Homo sapiens: one gene and its partners. The protein of the gene in region 3 interacts with the protein of the main gene of each other region in a biochemical or structural test. Each region holds a gene or a part of one and is shown on either strand. Other genes may lie near its edges.

What was found. Proteins that work in one complex are often made in the same cells at the same time.
Region 1: the proteins of RAPGEF1 (region 3) and HCK form a complex in vitro, tested with the Homo sapiens proteins (one study listed by BioGRID).
Region 2: the proteins of RAPGEF1 (region 3) and CRKL form a complex in vitro, tested with the Homo sapiens proteins (one study listed by BioGRID).
Region 4: the proteins of RAPGEF1 (region 3) and GRB2 form a complex in vitro, tested with the Homo sapiens proteins (2 studies listed by BioGRID and IntAct, with this or other methods).

What each region holds. Positions count from the first base shown.
Region 1 is NC_000020.11:32,069,168-32,073,025, reverse strand, and holds part of HCK (tyrosine-protein kinase HCK), read right to left. Parts: intron 3,339-3,858; exon of another isoform or gene 3,275-3,338; intron 1,365-3,274; coding exon 1,244-1,364; intron 1-1,243. UniProt on the Homo sapiens protein: Non-receptor tyrosine-protein kinase found in hematopoietic cells that transmits signals from cell surface receptors and plays an important role in the regulation of innate immune responses, including neutrophil, monocyte, macrophage and mast cell functions, phagocytosis, cell survival and proliferation, cell adhesion and migration.
Region 2 is NC_000022.11:20,927,333-20,931,190, reverse strand, and holds part of CRKL (crk-like protein), read right to left. Parts: intron 1-3,858. UniProt on the Homo sapiens protein: May mediate the transduction of intracellular signals.
Region 3 is NC_000009.12:131,625,050-131,628,907, forward strand, and holds part of RAPGEF1 (rap guanine nucleotide exchange factor 1), read right to left. Parts: intron 3,624-3,858; coding exon 3,500-3,623; intron 3,048-3,499; coding exon 2,864-3,047; intron 1,374-2,863; coding exon 873-1,373; intron 1-872. UniProt on the Homo sapiens protein: Guanine nucleotide-releasing protein that binds to SH3 domain of CRK and GRB2/ASH. Transduces signals from CRK to activate RAS. Involved in cell branching and adhesion mediated by BCAR1-CRK-RAPGEF1 signaling and activation of RAP1.
Region 4 is NC_000017.11:75,395,395-75,399,252, forward strand, and holds part of GRB2 (growth factor receptor-bound protein 2), read right to left. Parts: intron 19-3,858; exon of another isoform or gene 1-18. UniProt on the Homo sapiens protein: Non-enzymatic adapter protein that plays a pivotal role in precisely regulated signaling cascades from cell surface receptors to cellular responses, including signaling transduction and gene expression.

The sequences.
Region 1 (3,858 bases), on a different chromosome or scaffold from region 3:
CGGGTTCAAGTGATTCTCCTGCCTCAGCCTCCCAAGTAGCTGGGATTACAGGCGCATGCCACCATGCCTGGCTAATTTTGTATTTTTAGTAGAGATGGGGTTTCACCATGTTGGCCCGGCTGGTCTAGAACTCCTGACCTCCCAAAGTGCTGGGATTACAGGAGTGAGCCACTGTGCCCAGCCAGGATCCAGGTTTCTTGAGCTGTGACCTCGGCCTTCGGTCTTGGATGTACCGGGGGATGCTGCTTGACCCCTCCCCTCAACACACAGTGAAGGGGTCGGTCCAGATCAGTGTTTTCCGACTAAGTTTGGAGAAATCACAGGCCCACCAGTGATTTATATTCCATAAATAAAGGCTCTGTTATGTATGTGAAACAATCTAAGTGTCCATGCAAGGGGGAAGTGACACCTAAACTATGGCATTCTAAGCAGCTCTTTTTTTTTTTTTTTTTTTTTTTTTTTAAAGAGACAGGGTCTCCCTGTATTGCCCAGGCTGGAGTGCAGTGGCGTGATCATAGCTCATGCAGTTCGAACTCCTGGGCTCAAGTAATCCTCCTGCCTCAGCCTCCCAAAATGCTGGGAGTACAAGTGTGAGCCACTGCACCTGGCCTGTGTTTTTATTTTCAAGAAGAATGTATTTGTGTGTCACACAATAGGATTATTGTGAGGATTAGGGTGTTAATAACCGTAAAGGCTTACAACAGTGCTGGGTTCATAGTCAGCTTTGTATAAACATAAAAGAAGTTGGTAAATACCTCTCCTAGCATGACTGCTTCTCTTTTTACAACTCTTGCTGTTGTTCCTGCTGCTACTCTTGGTCTTATACTCACGCAATTATGGTTGGTACTATTAGTATGACAATTGTTACTGTATTTTTGCAATGCTGCTGATACTACCATTACATTGTCACTTCAGCTGCTATCATTACTGTTCACTCGTTTCTCAGCACTGCTTTTGCTTCTGCCCAGGCCGGAGGCCTGAGATGCTCACTCACACCTGTTTGGTGGAGCTCAGGCTGAGGGGCCAAGCCTGGGCTGCAGGAAAGAGAGATGACTTCTTTGCCCCTATGCATGCTGGCTGGCGCTGCGTCCCGGAGAGTCGAGTCAGGACACTGTTGGTGGCCAGTCAGCTCCCTTTCACCCCAAGCTCACCCTGCCCAACCTTGGGAAGACAGGAGGCTGTTAGGGCAATGTTGGGGCAGCATCCGTCAGCCCCCAGGGAAACTGGGACCTCCCCTACTCACCGGCTTGATGGTGGATGTGGGATCCGGCACGTACACAGGACAGTGTGGGCTGGCGCTGGTTTCAGTTTTTGAGAATGTATTGCCTCCGACCTGGAGGAACTTGGACTTCATGCACCCCATCCTGCAGCAGACAGAAGGGAGGTGAGCCCCAGTTACCAAGAGCCTCATGCGGGGAAGTCTTCTGATGCTGGCATTCCAGGTCCCCTGCCCCCGGGCTGGCTCCCACTGGCCTTCCCGGTCTTAACTCCCCTGCCAGCTCCATGCACCCTTATCCTCCCCACATGGAACCCACTCCATCCTTGCCACCTCTGGGCTTCCCCATGTCCACGTGCCACAGCACTGGCCCAGGGCTGACAAGCTGTCATTGTCGTGGGTACCAAGGACCAGCGTGATGGATGTTTATTCAGAGGATGGCATGAGGATAACAGAAATGTAACAGGTAGAGCTGTTGGGTGGGCACTGCCAGCTCTCAGGTCAGAAAGCCTCAGCTGATCCTTGGCCCCTCCACCCCACCAGCACCTCACTGACCACTTTCCTGCCCCTACCCACCTCTCAGGTCTTCATCGGCAAAATGGGGACAATAATATGACCTACAGTGGGGAAATACTCAGTGCAGTGTCAGGCTCAGAGCAAACACTACAGAAAAACTGCAGTATTATCAGATGATAAATTGCCATTTTTATATTAAATAACAAGATGAGGTCACATAACATGGCTCAAACAATCTAGTTTGTCAAGGCACCGTATTACTGGTATCAATTTATAAATTGCTTATAACTCCTTCCCTCCCTCCCTCCCTCCCTTCCTTCCTGCTCCCCCTCCTCTTCCTTCCCCCTCCTCCTCCTTCCCCTCCTCCTCCTTCCCCCTCCTCTGTCCTCCCTCCTCCTCCTCTTTCTTCGTCTTCTTCCTCTTCCTCTTCCTCCTCTCTTTCTCTCTGTCTCTCTCTGAGTTGTTTGGTAATTCATTCATCCATTTACACAGCCAAGATTTACTGGGCACTTTTCTAAACTGTGAAGAAGAGAAGCAAGTTCACGCCCTCAGGACCTCAACTGCAGCCGAATGGGAGACAGAGACAATAAACAGGCCAACAAATAAATAACAGGGCAAATTGAGTTAATGAAAAGTGTGAGGACAATAAGAGAGGATGCTGTGGGGAACAACAGGTCTGGCTCTTTTAGGCAGGGCATTTGGGGAAGGCCTGTCAGAGAAAGGGATACAGAACCTGCGGTCTAAATGACACAAAGGAGCCAGTGAGGGGACACTCTGAGGGAAGAGTGTTCCAGGCAGAGGGAACAGCAAATGCAAAGGCCCTGAGGCTGGCATGTGCTTAGAGAGAAGTTGGAGGCACTGAAAGCAGGAGAGTGTAGCTGAAGCTCATGGGCAGGGAAGAGGGTGGTTGTGACAAGGCCACCATATCCTGTAGGGCCAGTAAGGACTTTGGATTTTATTCTAAGGATGATGGAAAGTTTCTGGCAGGAGAATGATGGGATTCAATTTGCACTTTAAATAATCCCACCGGTGGCTGAGTGAGGCGTGGACAGTGGGGAGCAGGGGAGGGAACCCTGTGAGAAATCTGCCAAAATTGTTCAGGTATGAGATGATGGTGGCCCAGGGTAGTGTGGGGGCAGAGAGGAGGTAAGCATTGGACAGGTTTGGGGGACATTTTGGAGGTAGAGCTTGCAGACTTTGCTGCTGTATTGAATTAATTTAAGGATGCTTAAACAAAACACATTTACTCCAAGTAGAGTCAAAACATAATTGTAAAAGTGGAAGAAATGTTTCATTTCTTTTCTCAAAATGTGCACACACATTTGCTGAGAAGGCAGGCTGTGACAACCACATAAGGAAGTGCTTGCTTTTCTCATCTCTGCACAATTGCCATTTTCTTCTAAAGCAGTTAGAACTCAGTTATACTTATCTTGTTAAAATAAACATGTATTTGTGGTTTAAGGAAAAAAACCCCAAACTCCTAGGCTTAGATGAGTTACTTTTAAAAATGAAAAAAGATTCCTTTTATTTACAAGGATTTACCTCTTCTGGTGGGAACTGGGAAAGATTTGCCACCTCAAGACTTGAGCGGTTTTGCTTTGTTTGTCTTTTGGAAATAAAATAAGGAACACATTCAGACTCTTGGAGTGCTGGATCATTAATTTGAAAAATTATCATAATTAAGCACAGATTTATAATGTACTTGCATGCATTTAAAACTGAAACCAGCATCTCTCTTTGAGATAAATGTGTATTACAGTTCTGGGAAATTAAACGGGCATCTTGTGTGACATATATGACATAAAATTATATCACATTTCGTGTGTTTTGGTCAGCATAAAGATGTTCTGGGAAGAGCAGCACTGTGTGAGGTAGGGCAGCTCACTCTACCTCTCTGGGCACCCACTGATCTGCAGCTGTGAGTCTTGTGATTTCCAATCCATGCGCGTTGAGCACCTTGTATGCTTCACTTACGTGATCAATGTACATATTCAAGATGGCCACAGGGTCCCGAGGGAGGGGTCTCAGAAGACCTGTGTTCATTCACAATCCAAGGCCATCTCTGAGAAAGGGTGGCAAGGGTTCTACCTCATAGGGTGGTGGTGAGCACTGAGCAAGTTGATGAG
Region 2 (3,858 bases), on a different chromosome or scaffold from region 3:
CAAGCAATTCTCTCGCCTTGGCCTCCCAAAGTGTTGGGATTACAGGTGTGAGCCATCACACCCAGCCCCTGCTATTTCAAGAGCCACAGAGAGCCTGTGAACAGTCCAGTAAGTACCATATAAATTTCAGACACTATTAAGAGCACAGTCAGTTCCACCTTAGACTCCATCCAAGAGTATTTTATTATTTGTATAGTTAAAAGCAGTTAGCCAGTGTGTGGTGGCTCACGCCTGTAATCCCAGCACTTTGGGAGGCTGAGGTGGACGGATCACAAGGTCAGGAGATTGAGACCATCCTGGCTAACACGGTGAAACCCTGTCTCTCTACTAAAAATACAAAAAATTAGCCAGGTGTGGTGGCACACGCCTGTAGTCCCAGCCACTCGGGAGGCTGAGGCAGGAGAATGGTGTAAACCCGGGAGGCGGAGCTTGCAGTGAGCCAAGATCACGTCACTGCCTGAAACAGTTAAGACTCTATCTCAAAAAAAAAAAAAAAAAAAAAAAAAAAAAGCCAGGCGTGTGGTGGCTCACGCCTGTAATCCCAACACTGGGAGGCCGAGGCGGGAGGATCACTTGAGGTCAGGAGTTCAAGACCAACCTGGCCAACATGACAAAAAACCCTGTCACTACTAAAAATACAAAAGTTAGCCAGGTGTGGTGGCGTGCGCCTGTAGGCCCAGCTACTTGGGAGGCCGAGGGAAGAGAATTGCTTGAACCTGGGAGGCAGAGGTTGCAATGAGCTGAGATCACACCACTGCACTCCAGCCTGGGTGACAGAGCAAGACTCCATCTTAAAAACAAACAAAAAAAAGAAGATAGCCAAGCCCATTCATTTACGTATTGTCTATGACTGTTTTTCACTACAAAGGCATAGTTGAGTAGTTGGACAGAGACTCTATGGAAAAGCTGAAAATATTTAAAATCTGACCCTTTACTCAACAGTTTGCTGATCCCCCATCTAAATTCCTGGGTTAGGGAGGCAAAGTGTGCTTTTCAACTTCCTTGCTTCCCTGGTGAGGGGTATGTCTGTGTAGAAATTTGATAAAGATAGTTTCTATTTCCCTCCACTACTATACTGCTATAGTGACCTTGGGGCTCATTTTCTGTGTTAGTATCTGCAGAGATATTCATAAATTTGACACCAAATCAATCTCACCAGCCATAACCCTGACACAAATTCCAAGTCCTCTGCCCTATATTCTCAAACTCATTTATTCATCAAACTCCCCTGAAAATTACACATTAGTTCCACTGAAGAGATAAATACATGTTGCTCCATGTCAGATATCTTAGCCTTTCCATTAGACCCCACTGTCTAAAGAAATATGAAGCATATTCATCAGAAAATTTATTGCTTCCCAATTATTTGTTCTTTGAGCAAGGTTGAAAATAGCACCCTCCCCCAACTTCCCTTTAAAATATAAAGTGTTGCCCAGGCGCAGTGGCTCATGCCTGCAATCCTAGCACTTTGGAAGGCCGAGGCAGGTGGATCATGAGGTCAGGAGTTTGAGACCAACCTGGCCAACATGACAAAACCCTGTCACTATTAAAATACAAAAATTAGCCAGGTGTGGTGGCGTGTGCCTGTAGGCCCAGCTACTTGGGAGGCTGAGGCAAGAGAATTGCTTGAACCCGGGAGGCGGAGGTTGCAGTGAGCTGAGATCATGCCACTGCACTCCAGCCTGGGCGACAGACAGAGATTCCGTCTCAAAAAATTAAATAGATAAGGCAGGTGCAGTGGCTCACGCCTGTAATCCCAGCACTTTGGGAGGCCAAGGCGGGCGGATCAAGAGGTCAGGAGATCGAGACCATCCTGGCTAACACAGTGAAACCCCATCTCTACTAAAAATACAAAAAAATTAGCTGAGCGTGGTGGCAGGCGCCTGTAGTCCCAGCTACTCGGGAGGCTGAGGCAGGAGAATGGTGTGAACCCGGGAGGCAGAGCTTGCAGTGAGCCGAGATCGCGCCACTGCACTCCAGTCTGGGTAACAGAGTGAGACTCCGACTCAAAAATAAATAAATAAAATAAAATAAAATAAAATGCACAGGGTTTTCAAGCCCATCCAAACACCCTTGACCATGCTTCTCACTTTTTGCCTATTGTCCACTACACACTTTGAGCAGCAAAGCCCCTAACAACTAATTCGTAACTGACTTTTCTTTTCTGATGATAACGAATCTCTCAGCTCTTTTGGTTAAAAGCGTTCTCAGTTTCTACATGTATAAACCATACACAAAACATCTTTAAACCAAGTGCTAATATGTTCTAAGCTTAAAATCTCCTTATGCATGCTAAGAACCAATACAATCAACTTCTAGAAAAAGGAAGTTTCAAAGGTGCTGGTAATATTCCTTTTTTTTTTTTTTTTTTTTTTTTTGAGATGGGATCTCGTTCTGTTGCCCGAGCTAGAGTGCAGAGGCACAATCATGGCTCATTGCAGCCTCAACCTCCAAGGCTCAAGCGATCCTCCCACCTCAGCCTTCTGTGTAGCTGGGACTACAGGTGCATGCCACCACATCCGATTAATTTTTGTATTTTTGGTAGAAACAGGGTCTTGCCATGTTGTCTAAGCTGGTCTTGAACTCCTGAGCTCAAGCAATCTTCCCACCTCAGCCTCCCAAAGTCCTGGGATTACAGTCTGGGCCACCACGCCTGGCCAATGTTTTATTTATTTATTTTTTAAAGGGAGCACACAGATGATAGTTTTTTTTGGCTTGTTTTGTAAATTTTTTTGAGATAGCGTCTTGCTCTATGGCCCAGGCTGGAGTGCAGCAGTACGATCATGGCTCACTATAGCCTTGACCTCCCAGGCTCAAGTGATCCTCCCACCTCAGCCTCCCATGTAGCTGGGACTACAGGCATGAGCCACCATGCCCAGCCAATCCTTGTTTAATTTTTTGCAGAGATGGGGGTTTATGTTGCCCAGGCTGGTCTTGAACTCCTGGGCTCAAGCAATCCTCCTACCTCAGCCTCCCCACTATTTGGGACTACAGGTGCATGCCACCACACCCAGCTTACATATACTTTTTTTTTGAGACAGAGTCTCACTCTATTGCCCAGGCTGGAGTGTAGTGGTGTGATCTCAGCTCACCAAAACCTCTGCCTCCTGGGTTCAAGCTATTCTTGTGCCTAAGCCTCCCCAGTAGCTGGGATTACAGGGCCCCACTACTGCCGGGCTAATTTTGTATTTTTAACAGAGATGGGTTTCACATGCTGGCCAGGCTGGTCTTAAACTCCTGACCTCAAGTGATCTGCCTCCCTCGGCCTCCCAAAGTGCTGGGATTACAGACATGAGCCAACGTGCCCAGGCTTACTCTTTTTCCTTTTTTTTTTTTTTTTTTTTTTTTGAGACAGAGTCTTGCTCTGTTACCCAGACTGGAGTGCAATGGTGCGATCTCAACTCATTGCAACCTCCACCTCCCGGGTTCAAACAATTATCCTGCCTCAGCGTCCCAAGTAGCTGGGATTACAGGCATCTACCACCACGCCCGGCTAATTTTTGTCTTTTTAGTAGAGACAGGGTTTCACCACGTTGGCCAGGCTGGTCTCGAACTCCTGACCTCAAGTGATCCACCTGTCTTGGCTTCCCAATGTGCTGAGATTACAGGCGTGAGCCACGGCACCCTTACTCTTTTCTATGTATGAAATATTTCACAGTTAAAAAAAAAAAAAAAAAGGTAGAAAACTTAATTCCAGCTGGGCGTGGTGACTGGCTCATGCCTGTAATCCCAGCACATTAGGGGGCCGAGGCAATTGGATCACCTGAGGTCAGGAGTTTGAGACCAGCCTGGTCCAATATGGTGAAACCCCATCTCTACTAAAAATACAAAAATTAGCCGGGCATGGTGGTGGGCGCC
Region 3 (3,858 bases):
TTGGGAATTTGGAGTAGAGATTCCATTTCTAGGTCATAGAAGTTCTCTGCTGGATGTGTCAACTGAGGCCAGGGAAGCCTGGGGCTGTGTGGCTAATGTGACCACACACATTGAAACGGTGACAGCTGTGCTGCCAAGAAAATCGAAGCAGAACTATGCTAGTGAAGCAGGGAGAGGGCGGGGACAGAGGGGGCCAGGCAAGTCCCAGAAGTGTGGAGCAGTTAGGGGAGCTAGGAGAAAACCGAATTTCCAGGAGAACTCTCCTTATTACTTTTATGACAGATTTACCGTTGGAAAATATTCAAAACTTCAGCTCCAACCCTGGGCTCCAATAACATCATATATTAAAATGTCTGGTCCAAGAAGTGTGCTGAATTACTCCTGCTGGGCAACCCCAGCTTCCAAGTCATTCTGGGAGCATGAACAGAGACAGTGTGCTCTAGACAGGGATCCTTAGACAATCACTCTGTGGAAACTAGGCAAGTTCTGCTGAAATTCACGTATCCACCTCGCTCTACACAGATGTTGCTGCAATGCTGTCCTGCGTGCCAGGACACTCGTTCCCCTCTGTCACTGTGATCAGGCCAGAAGGTCAACTGCTGCCATCTAAAGAGGAGAATCCCTCAGGCTACATGGAGACCGGACCTGAGATTGTATAGAAACTGTAAAGGAGAGGTCAGCTGATGAGGCTTTAAAAATGATCACGTGTAATGACAAAACCTGGCTCCCAGAAGTGTCCACATACCTGGCTGGCCTATCTTTTATGAAATAATGAGGCCACTGATTTGATTCTGGTCTAATGCTGAAATAAAACATACTGCCATTTCAGGTTATAAAATGCACTTCCTGACAACAGTGCAACAAAGGCTTACTGTGTTTGTTTTTCTTCTCTGGTAGAGGAGGTGGTTTTTCTGGGTCACCGGTTGACTCAGGAGCAGTAAAATCACCCACAAATTCGACAGGGGCTGAGGAACCTCCATGCTGAAAGGGCAGAATAGCAGCAAAGGGCGCGTAGGGGACGGATGGGATCGGGGCTGTGCTCTGCAGGTCCTCCCCAGAGATGTTGTCATACTGCGAGGGATGCCGCTCGTAGGACACCCTGCAGCCAGAGCCGTCCGCCGTCTGGGAGGCTGCGCTCCTGCGCTTCTTCTCGGGGAGAGCAGGTGGCGTATCTGTCTGCTGCCCTGGGGCCAGAGGTCCGTCTGGCTGGGGATGGCCGCCAAGAGGCAGCTGGAAAGGAGGGCCAAGAAATGGAGACCCAGACTCCCCCAAAGACTCTGGCAACGGGCTAAGGTTCCAGGCCGTCTGCTGAGGTATCTGGTCTGCGTTAGAGAGGTCTTGCTGGAGGAATTCATAGTCGGGATCATAGTGGTCTGCAGTTACAACAGGGGAAAAAGAGACCCGTTAGCCACAGGCCCTGCAGGAGCAGCCAGCTCCCCCCGCCCGCCTCTCGCCGGCTCGCTCATGGGTGTGTGACAAAGACCTGTCTCCAGGGCTTATTTTATATTCACATGTTATATTCTTCATTCTTCTCCCTGATTATAAAAGCAAACCAGATGGGAATATGGCTGTTTGCTATACTTTTATTTTTTACATTTCTTATTTAAAAAAAAAATACACAACCATTACGGAAACTGTGGCAAATTACATCAAGAAAATAAAAATCACCCACAGTACCATAATCTAACTGTACTTTCTATTTACATTTTGAAGTATTTCCTTAAATGACTTTTTTGCCTATACAATTCCTTTTTGAAAAAGCCTAACTGAGGGCCACGCGGTGGCTCACGCCTGTAATCCCAGCACTCTGTGAGGCCGAGGCGGGCCGATCAGTTGAGGCCAGGAGTTCAATACCAGCCTGGCCAATGTGGCAAAACCCCGTCTCTACTAAAAATACAAAAATTGGCTGGGCACGCTGGCCCACTTTGGGAGGCTGAGGTGGGCAGATCACCTAGAGTTCAAGACCAGCCTGGTCAACATGGTGAAATCCCGTCTCTACTAAAAAGACAAAAAAATTAGCCGGGCGTGGTGGCACACACCTGTAATCCCAGCTGCTTGGGAGGCTGAGGCAGGAGAATCACTTGAACCCGGGAGGCGGAGGTTGCAGTGAGCCCAGATCATGTCACTACACTCCAGCCTGGGTGACAGAGTGAGGCTCTGTCTCAAAAAAAAAAAAAAAAAAAAAAAAAAAAGAAACAATTGAGAATACTATGTAAATGGTCCTGTACTTTTTCTAGTTATCAATATGAGTGATTTTTAATAGCTACAGATTATTCCAGCAAATGAATGTACCATAATTCATCTGATTTCCTACCAATGAAAATCTTGCTATTAATCACTGATTATGCTCCTAGGATACATTCTCAGAAGTGAAAATATCTAGTTCACAGGATACGAACAGCTTCCTGCTCTCTAAGCCCCCTGCCCAGCAGACTCGGAGGGGCCCGCACAGTACACATTCAGCACTGACTAACGAGAAGGCCGGCTCGCGCGGCTCCCTCCCCTTCAGCCTCTGTCAAGTGTTGTCAGGACCCCCACCCCTTTGTTTAAAGCTCTCAACACAAATGGCTCTTAATTTTGGTAAAGAGAGTCAAATTACTCACTGACAGATGAACTAACAGTCACCGCTTGAATATCTAGGCTGTGGTTTTACATTGTGATTTCATTTACATGCTCAACTTCCTTGGGAGGCAGATACTGTTATCCATATTTTGCAGATGAGGAAGCTGAGGCTCAGATTTTAAACAAGTCAGCCAAAGCCACGTAGTCAATGATTGCATGACCTGGGACTCCCACCCAGGACTGTAATGGCCCCAGAGAAGCCACCGAGACACGATGGAACAGGAGGATGGTGGCGGCTCACCTAGTGTTTCACAGCTTGTGTTCCGGGAGCACTGCCCACTGTCCCTGTCCAGAGAGGACAGCTGCTCGTCTGACTTGCTGAGCTTGCCTATGCTGCTGCAGGGGGAGAGGCGGGGCGACTCTCCACCATATGAGTGGCTGCCTCCTGACAGTCGCCTCTGTGCGTAACAGTCAACATCAAAATCCTCAAGTGGAAAAAGAAAAACAAAGCCAAATCACTTCTGAGAAACGGTGGCACAGACCAGGGGTGAGGCAACCGGTGCATTTACTTAGAGAAGGAAATACTGCCAGGCGAACTCAGAAACCACCTCTGACGTCAGTAGTCGAAGGACACATACAGCTGAGAAGCAGCCATCTGGAGTTTGTGGGGGGTGTGGCCAGGGAGGGCCCTGGGGCTGGACTCACCTATCCCCAGGAGACGCCCTTTGGCTCTGCCCTCCCTGCCCTGACCCTTATCCCCATATGGGAACTTGGACCGTGTCCTGGAGAGAGAGGGATGGGTACAAGGTCTCGCACTCCTCGATGTGACAAACACCAGCGCCTGAAGACCATGGGTTTCTTTCAGCTTCAGGAGCCACATCCCTGAGCCCCCCACCCCCTCCCTGCCTTCCCATGCAGGGAACAGGGGCTGCATTACCTGCCTATTGATTCCAACAGGCAAACTGGAGCCACTGGTGGCTCGGCTCATGGGGGCCACCACAGCCACTCGGGTAGGGGACGGCGCCGACTGTCTTTTCTTGGGTGGCAATGCTGGTGGAGGACTGAAACAGACCGAAACGTCCAGGCAGACCAAACCACACTCACCAAAGCTCTTCAGCGTGATATTGGGGTACAGGATGTGGGGTTCTTTCATTACTAGACTCTCCACACCCAATGTTCACACTTCAACTCCTGCCTACTCCCCTCCGCCAAAATAAAACCTGTAAATACCAAATGAACAAAAAAGAACAACCCTTTCTTTTTCTTTCATAATAAATCATACCATGTCTCCCTGGG
Region 4 (3,858 bases), on a different chromosome or scaffold from region 3:
CAGAGGTTGATCTGCGAATATTTATACTTGTGTATCCTTAAATGCCCTTCACTTACACTCTCTGTAGTTACTTTGATCAAACTAATCCGTGTACATAATTTTAAAAGTCAGAGTATTAAAAGGCTTATGAAAAAGAGCAGCTCCCTACCAACACCCACAGGCGATCACTCTCGATTTTGTTTTTTGCTTTCTCTTTGTATTTACTTATTTTTCTTTTTTTAAATCTTGTGGTCAATGCACAAAATGGATAGAGTATTTCTAAAGAATGTGCTTTTACTGCTTTCTCAGTTTATTCCAGCCATTATCTATTGCCTGAAAGGTGAAGATTTAGTTTCCCCCGACCTATACCAGTAATATCACATATTCTGGTTTAATCAGTAGTATGTTATGAAATACTACTCACTGATAATTTAAATAATGCACTAAAACCAATCATACTTTTTGTGTTTTTTTTTTTTTCTTTTTTGAGATAGAGTTCTCTAAGATTGCCCAGGCTAGAGTGCAGTGGCATGATCTCGGCTCATTGCAACCTCCACCTCCCAGGTTCAAGCGATCCTCCTACCTCGGCCTGTAGCTGGGACTACAGGCATGTGCCAACAAGCCTGGCTACTTTTTATATTTTTAGTAGAGACGGGATTTCACCATGTTGGCCAGGCTGGTCTTGAACTCCTGGCCTCAAGTGATCCGCCCACTTTGGCCTCCCCAAGTGCTGGGATTACAGGCATCGGCCGCTGTGCCTGACCCAATCATACTTTTTTGTACAATCCTTAGATTTTTCCCAGCATTAGCAACTGCTTAATGTTCTATTTTTTACTTGCCTAGTTCCCTGTGTATCTACTTTTACTTTTTCTTTTCTCTTTTTTTTTGAGACAGGGTCTTGCACTGTTGTCCAGGCACGAGTGCAGTGGCATGGTCATGGCTTACTGCATCCTTGATCTCCTTGGCTCAAGTAATCCTCATGCCTCAGCTTCCCAAGTAGCTGGAACTACAGGTGTGGGCCACTATGCCCGGCTACTTTTTCTATTTTTTGTAGAGACAGGGTCTCACTATGTGAGACCAGTCCAGTATAGCTTAGTGTTGAATTTGCATGGTCTCTAGAGGCAGGCCCCTCACGCTAACTGCTACAATTTTGGGCAAACTTTTCAAACAAGCTCCAGTTTCGTCATCTGTAAAATGAGAATAATATCTACCTTTTAAGACCCAGGCTGGTCTCAAACTCCTGGCCTCAAGCAATCTGCCTGCCTCGGCCTCCCAAAGTGCTAGGAATACAGGGGAGAGTGAGCCACCACGCCCAGCCCTATTTTTACTTTTAATGAATGCTCCAAAATCTCTCCTACTATCAAGATTTTCCTCAGCCTATTTATTTTAACTGGTCTCTAATGCCGAGACTATGTATTAGTGATAGGAAGCTGAAGAATATTTACAATGATAGGAAAAGAATAAGGAGTTTTATTTTTGAAAAACAGAAATCAGATAGAAATGAAAAGCCCTGTCACTTTCAAGGTGCTATGTAGTACGACCAGCCATAAGCTTCTGTGTCATTCAGGATTTAAGACAGCTGCAATGTTACTACTCAACAGCAGTACAAAAACCAAGACAGTTCTCAATACCTGCTTTCCTGCTGCTACTCAGCTCATCTGCTGAAAGCTTAAAAAGAATAACCTTCTTGAAAGTCGTGTTTTGAGTAACTATTGCTTTGTGAGATGCAGAGTTTGACAGAAAATTAAATCCCTACTTCCATGGCTGTGCTGAGTAAAAAAACAGAAAACTCAAAGAGGAAAGCTTATTAGGTTATCCACCCAAAAGAGCATATTCGCTAAAGGAATTCCAAAGGGTGTGTTTCAGTAAAGACAAAAAAAAATCTAACACATACACAACACTAATTACTAAAAGGAAGAAATCTGAAAGCAGACACAATGTATAATGATTTTAACAGAGTAGATGTTGCTGTTCACTTCCCAAGAAAATGGGGTATAGTGTACTTAACACTGAAGCCTAATGAGAGTAACCTCGAAACTGTTACCAGCCCATCCCAAGCAGTGAATTTTAAGAAAGGTAAGTACAGCTTTAATCATTCATTTCAAACAATGTCTACTGTATCCAAAAAAACTACTATCCTAAAGGTATTTGCAAGATTTTTTTTCTTTCTTCCATTTAACTCTCTTCTTCCCAAAATTCACAGAAAATAAAATACATGACAACAGTCCAGTATAGCTTAGTGTTGAATCTTCATGGTCTCTAGAGGCAGGCCCCTCACACTTACAGCTACAGTTGTGGGCAAAGTTGTGAAACAAGCTCCAGTTTTCTCATCTGTAAAATGAGAATATCTACCTTATAAGATCCACTGAGGATTAAATTAGACAACATATATAACATACATTAAGTGCTCTGGATAGAGCCCGACATGTAATAATCACTCAAAATTTATTTATTTATTTATTTATTTATTTATTTATTTATTTTTTGAGACAGCATCTAGCTCTGTCGCCCAGGCTGGACTGCAGTGTCACGATCTCAGGTCACTGCAACCTCCGCCTCCTAGGATCAAGCAATTCTCCTGCCTCGACCTCCCAAGTAGCTGGGACTACAGGTGCGCGCCACCAAGCCTGGCTAACTTTTGCATTTTTAGTAGAGATGGGGTTTCGCCATGTTGGCCAGGCTGGTCTCAAACTCCCACCTCAGCCTCCCAAAGTGCTGGGATTACAGGCATGAGCCACTGCACCCAGCCTTCAAAAGAAATTTTAAATGTTACTCTATTTAAAACATATGAAAAGAAATGCAAATTAAAACAATCAGAGTTTTCATATACTAATTGGCAAATTTTAAAAATATTTATAAAATCCAATCTGCAATACTTTGAGTAAACACACTTTTATTTATTTATTTATTTTTCAGAAAGGGTCTCACTCTGTAGCAAAGGCTGGAGGGCAGTGGCGTGATCTTGGTTTACTGCAACCTCCGCCTCCTGGGCTCAAGGGATCCTCTCACCTCAGCCTCCTTAGTGGGGACTACAGGCACCAGCCACCATAGCCTACTCATTTTTTTTTGTAGAGATGGGGTCTCCCTATGCTGCCCAGGCTGGTCTCAAACTCCTAAGCTCAACAGATCTGCCTGCCTTGGCCTCCCAAAGTGCTGGGATTACAGGTATGAGCCACCGCACCAGGCACAAAGACTTTTTACCCTACCCGGTGTCCACTGACTCAACATTTTGAGAAGTTACTAACTGACAATGTGGCTTGGTGTTACATTATAATAATAAAATCACCACAGAACCCACACTACAGCAAGGAATTAATGAGCTCAGCTCAATCTTTTTGGTGAGTTCTTTGGTAATCTATTGACAACTTTTATTTATTTTTATTTATTTTTTGGAGACAGAGTCTTGCTCTATCCCTCAGGCTGGAGTGCAGTGGCGTGATCTCCGCTCACTGCAACCTCCACCTCCTGGGTTCAAGCGATTCTCCTGCCTCAGCCTCCCAAGTAGCTGGGATTACAGGTGCCTGTAACCATGACCAGCTGATTTTTCTATTTTTAATAGAGACAGGATTTCGCCATGTTGCCCAGGATGGTCTTGAACTCCCGACCTCAGGTGATCCGCCCACTTTGCCCTCCCAAAGTGCTGGGATTACAGGCGTGAGCCACTGCGCCCAGCCTATTTACTTTTATTATTTGAGACAGAGTCTCGCTCTATTGCCCAGGCTGAAGTGCAGTGGAGCAATCATGGTTCACTTCAGCCTCAAACTCCTTGGCTCAAGCCATCCTCCTGCCTTAGCCTCCCAAGTAGCTGGGACTACAGGTGCACACCACCATGCCTGGCTAATTTTTGTGTGTGTGTGTGTGTGGTGACCAGGACTCACC